Regions from separate parts of the Homo sapiens genome. Here region 1 is linked to region 2. A link means that fine-mapping ties the variant in region 2 to the expression of a gene that starts in the linked region. Tissue or cell type: lymphoblastoid cells. Region 2 holds a variant in brackets; the other region holds the start of a gene. All regions are shown on one strand. Distances are from middle to middle.

What was found. PIP is the estimated chance that this variant, and not a neighbour inherited with it, causes the effect.
Region 1: ATG13 starts here. The variant in region 2 is fine-mapped to the expression of ATG13 in lymphoblastoid cells (GTEx, PIP 0.96).

Annotation. Positions count from the first base shown.
Region 1 is chr11:46,616,121-46,618,801 of GRCh38, reverse strand. It overlaps ATG13 (autophagy related 13), which reads right to left and starts at 1,249. Exons shown (of 19, transcript NM_001346311.2): 1 at 912-1,249. HARBI1 (harbinger transposase derived 1) reads left to right here and starts at 1,575. Exons shown (of 3, transcript NM_173811.4): 1 at 1,575-1,678; 2 at 2,421-2,681. The coding sequence starts at 2,565. RefSeq lists a silencer at 989-1,283 and an enhancer at 1,263-1,442.
Region 2 is chr11:46,699,097-46,701,777 of GRCh38, reverse strand. It overlaps ARHGAP1 (Rho GTPase activating protein 1), which reads left to right and starts at 1,159. Exons shown (of 13, transcript NM_004308.5): 1 at 1,159-1,227. ZNF408 (zinc finger protein 408) reads right to left here and starts at 747. Exons shown (of 5, transcript NM_024741.3): 1 at 679-747; 2 at 102-379. The coding sequence starts at 730. RefSeq lists an enhancer at 664-953 and a silencer at 1,284-1,403. The variant C/T (reference allele first, on the strand shown) is at 1,310.

The DNA.
Region 1 (2,681 bases), 83 kb after region 2:
ACTAAAAGACTTCTCCTGAGCTGATAAATGGAGAGTTGAAAACAACAAAAAAAAAACCTCATAATTGAGCTGGAGCCACTACATGCACACATGAAAAGGACTAACAGTCATAAAACAACACACAAAATCTGGAAGCTAATTTAGTGTAAAGGAAGAGCTTGTTGTTTCTTATTATAATACATCTCCCACTAAAGGTGTCCAATAAATTCTATCACCTTAGGAGATGAGTTTTAAACTAAGTGTAATGAGAAAATAGGTAATTTTTTAAAATCTCTTTTTTCTTTTTGGCTGCGGGGTGGCCAGAGAACGAAGAAATACCAAAAGTGAAATGCTACGCTGAATTGACCAGGCTAACTGGGAACTCACTGGAAAAGTGAAAACTGGGAAGAATTAGTGATGAGCTCAAGAAGGTGCTTAGCCACTTACCCAGAGATTTATTTAATGAGAATGGATCACAGGTTTCCACAGGTCGTTCCACTGCCAGTAAGAAGACAGTCGTGAACCATGGGTCCCTTTTTTCACTAGTCAACAGTCACCCTCACCTACACGCGGAGTACATATTTGGCACTCAGCAAATCTTGATTGAATGAAAACCTACCTCACTCATATTGGCACCCAACCCCGGAGTTATGGCCCCCCAAATTACCTCCAAAACGCCTGACGACCTAACCCAAGGAGCTGAAAAAGTGGAGAGGAAAGCTCTGGGGTGGAGGGGATTCTCTGCCAAACAAGCAGGGGCCAACGGGGCCTAGACCAACTCAACTTCCCACAGAAAACTCAGGGGCCCAGGGGATTGAACCGTGGCTAATCCCTTCTACTTCCACGAAGCAGCAGCCAAGGGGCCGCAGATCCACAGCCTCCCACCCGGGGGCGCTGAGAGATCTTGGGGTATCCCCCGCAAAAGTTAGTACCTGCGAAGCTGCGGCACAAAGAGTGGTTCCGGGCTCTCATTACGGAGGCCGGGACCTGGGACCGACCAGCCGCGCCTCCTGGCTGAGGGTTCCGCGCTCCGGAGCTGCAGTGACCGTACACGTCGCCGATAGACACCTAAGGCTTCAGAAGGGTCCTGGCTCGCAGGCCCCAGACGTTTTGCTCCTAAGACTCCGCGAGTTGTCGCACCCACGTCGACTGGCGCTCTTCAGTGCTTCCCTCACTGGTTAAGCGGTCACTCCCGCCTTAAGCCCAGCAGCCGGTCGCTTCCCGGCGCCGCCATCGTTAGTGTTTGTTTTCATCCGCTTCGGTAATGGCCGGGGGGGGGGGGTGAAAGAGGGCTACGGGGGAAATCCAGATGCCTAACCTTAGTCGCACTTTCGCTACAGTACGGACGCCCTATTTATTCTTTTAGTCCTCAAAATATCCATAAAAGTTGATTTTCATTCCACGTAAGCTTTCTTCTCCAATCTTTCTAAGCTACTCAAGATAAAACAAAGACGGAAAGGCGGTGTTTGAGAGAGAGAGAGAGAGACCGTTTGGGCCGCGTGTGGAATGTGCGGAGATGAACCGCAGGTAGCCGCGGCAGCGGCAGTGAGGGCGCGGCGCGGGGCGGGCGCTGACGCGGAAGGGGCGGTGCCGCTGTTGCGCGCCGTGGCGGCCTCTGTGCAGTCGCCGGTTCCGGAGGAGGGCCCAACCCGGCTGGGTGGGTGGGAAGTGTGGCTGGTAACCTGGCAGCCGCGGAGAGGTGGGTGACGGGCCTGGGCTAACTGAGTGGCCGGCGCAATCAGACTTTGACATCCGTTTTTAGGGTGCCCTTTAAAAGTGGCAGAGTCGCTTCCCAAACCTGGTTCGGCCAGCCTCTTTTTCGCTCCCGACTTCCAATGTGTCTGGTCTTCCGTACTTCCTGGCCCTCAGGTTCACGATTTGGAGTTCTTGGAGTGAGGGAAAAGCCTTTTGTTACAGCACACAGTGTACGTCCATAAGGCTGGGTTGTGGACTTTGGTTGTTTTTTTTTTTTTTTTTTTTTTTTTTTTTTTGCCCCTTCTTTTCTTGTTAGACTGGTTTGAACACCCCAGCATCTGTCCTGTATTTGTCAGGTGAAACCAGAAGTCTTTGGATAATGAAACCCGTGACCAATTCTTACCCAAGGTGGTTATGACATATGTCAGCTGCTTCTTGGCCTATATAGTTAGAAGCCGACCTCTTTTACCTTGTGAATAATTATGTCATCACCTCCATTATTCTTTTGGTGTTCTCAATTGAAATGCCAAGCATTAAATGAGCCACAAAGATTGAATTCCCATTATCCTTGAATCAGAGCAAGCCTGTCGTGCAGCCATGAGTTAGTGGAGAAAAATCCGGAGTTGTAAGTACAGTACGTTTTGCCTCAACAAAATGGAAATTTGTAGAAAAGGAGCTGCTCCAGCCTTTGAGTCACTTTAAAGTCTTTGGTAGGTTCCTAATGTTTTTTCTTTTAACATTTACAGAGAGAAGATTATAAATGGCAGAGCCATTTAACTGTGGTTAGCTGTTGGATTCTGATACTTTCTTAAAAATACGTTCTTGCACCAACATCTTCATTGGGAACAGTTCAGAAAAAGCAAAGAGGAGAGCCAACATTCACATTTACCATGGCTATACCAATAACAGTGCTTGACTGTGACCTCTTGCTATATGGCCGTGGTCACCGGACATTGGACCGTTTTAAGCTGGATGATGTGACTGATGAATACTTGATGTCCATGTAT
Region 2 (2,681 bases):
CTTGAAATACTCTCTTTCTTCAAATTGAAAAGCTGTCTAGCAATGTCCAAACCTCCCCTACATTTTCAAGGGCGGAGGGAAGTCGCTCTATCCTTCAATACCTCCTCCTGCCGTGGCTTTACTCCCTCGCCCTTCTCCTTGGAGGCAGACTCCTCTTCCAGCGGCCCCCACAGCAGGCCGGGCTGCAGGGGGTCCCCGACACACCAGACCCCCAAGCGCTGTTCCTTGGCGAGTGAGGGGCCAAGGGCCAAGCCCCGGGGAAGGCTCTTTAAAGCGAGGATGTCTCGGGTCGGCTCGGGTGGGACGTCTTTGAGGCCCTGCGTACAGCCTTCTCCGGAAGGGTTCCATCCTAAGTCCAGGCCCAGGCGCGGCTCGCGGGCTGCAGAGAGAAGGGAAGACAGTGAGGGAGCCACCCAAGAAGGTGGGAGGTGGGGAAAAGTGTGGGAGGAAACCGCAGGTCCAGGTGGGCCTGCGGAGCCCGAGGGACAGGTGAGGGCTCTAAGGAGGGCCCTGAAAGTTTTGAGGAGGCTCAAGGGCTCTTCAGAAGCCCCCAGCGACTCTGAGGGCACTGGAGGATCCTGGGATCCGGAGGAGAGAAGACTGAGGAGAAAGCTGACCACAGAGCGTCAGATCCACCTGGGCCAAGGTTGAGGGTCGCGGACATCGCAGGTCACTCACCGAGTTGCAGCGCCTTCTTCCCCTCCAAGAGCAGCTCCTCCGCCTCCTCCATTCCGGGTCAGAAAGCCTCCCTACGCCGGAAGTGAGCTTCCTCTTCTCAGCTCCTCCAGGAAACAGTCACGGACTTCCAAATTTTTTTCTCAGGAAAGAAGCCTCAGAGCTGGACCTCATTGGTGCACAGGACTGGGAGTTTGGGAGTACTGGGGAGGCAGAACTCTGTCCGAGAGCAATGCGAACCTCGGATTCCGGAGGTGCACCAGTGATTCGACTAGCTGGGAAAGCGGAACTAATTGTTCCAGCCATCTCTTTGGGAGCGACGAGTCGGACAGTTATGCTGTTACCTCCCCGAGGCAGGAACTTAGGCGGGCATGTGCAGGAAGTGGGCGGGGCTCCTGGAAAGGCCATGTTTGGGGCCGGAAGTGGGTTGGAGGTGTGGCGGAAATGGTTGGGGATAGAAGAGAGCGGGAGGGGGCGGTTCCCGTTCCACCGCGGAGCCGGATGTTTGCCGAGCCTTGACAGGCGTGGCAGAGGGAGCAGTGCCCGAGCGCGGTGAGCTGCTGGGCGCGGGGTCTCCCCGGGTGGGGATGGGGAAAGGAAAGGAGCTGGCCAGGTCGTCCGAAGGGATGGGGTC[C/T]GGATGGGGAGGACCGGAGCAGATCCGAGGAGGGGAACGGGGGTGGAACTGGGCTCAGAGGCCTGGCCTTCCTGCAGGGTTTCTGCCCCATTTTGGCGCCTGCAATAAGAGGACTTAATCATTTTCACTACCTTCTTCCTGCCTTCCCCAGGGCAGAGTCCAGGCCGGATCGCTGTCATCCAGCAAGCCGGCGGGAGGGGGAAATCTCCCAGATCTGATCTGGCAAAGCACTAAGAAGAAGAAATTTGGGGGAAGTGTTCCTCCTTGCCACTTATTAGGCCACGCTTTCAGTTCAACTTATTTATTTTTTTAAGACGGAGTTTCACTCTTATTGCCCAGGCTGGAGTCTCGGTTCACTGCAACCTCCGCCTCCCGGATTCAAGCGATTCTCCTGCCTCAGCCTCCTGAGTAGCTGGGATTACAGGCGTCCGCCACCACGCCCGGCTAATTTTTGTATTTTTAGTAGAGACAGGGTTTCACCATGTTGGCCAGGCTGGTCTCGAACTCCTGACCTCGTGATCCTCCCGCCCCCGCCTCCCAAAGTGCTGGGATTATAGACGTGAGCCACTGCGCCCGGCCTCAGTTCAACTTCTTAATCTGTGAAACAGGATAATTGCAAAACGTAACCTGGGCTTTGTAAACCGTGAAGCTCTATGCAAACATAATTGTAGTTGAGAGTTGTAATTGCTGTTGTATTGTGGTGGGATTTGCAACTGGGAGGCCGATTCCAACGTTGAGAATATGATTTCTTTTCTTTTTTTTTTTTTAGACGGAGTCTCACTCTGTCGCCCAGGCTGGAGTGCAGTGGCGTGATCTCGGCTCACTGCAACCTCCGCCTCCCGGGTTCAAGCGATTCTTCTGCCTCAGCCTCCCAGGTAGCTGGGAGTACAGGCGCGCGCCACCACACCCGGCTAATTTTTGTATTTTTAGTAGAGATGGGGTTTCACCATCTTGGCCAGGTTGGTCTCCAAATCCTGACCTTGTGATCCGCCCGCCTCGGCCTCCCAAAGTGCTGGGATTACAGCCGTGAACCACCGTGCCCGGCTGGTCCTCTCTTTCCTCACTGTAAAATGAGCTTAGTAGAACATGCCTCATCAGTGCTATCGTGAGGTTGAGTTTGTGTCCCCAGTTCATGGTCCTATATAGGCCCTCAACAAGTGTGGGTTCCCTTCTTTACTTAGGAGATGAATTAATTGGTTCATTCATTCAACAAATGATAGCATCTACTATATATCAGGTGTCATTCTGAATAGACCAGAAGTTCTTAAACAGTGATTCTCAGAAGGTGTATGAACCTCTTAAAATTGCATACATCTCCTAAGTTTTCTTAGGGAAAAAGTCCACACATGTTACCAATTTCAGAAAAGTCTAC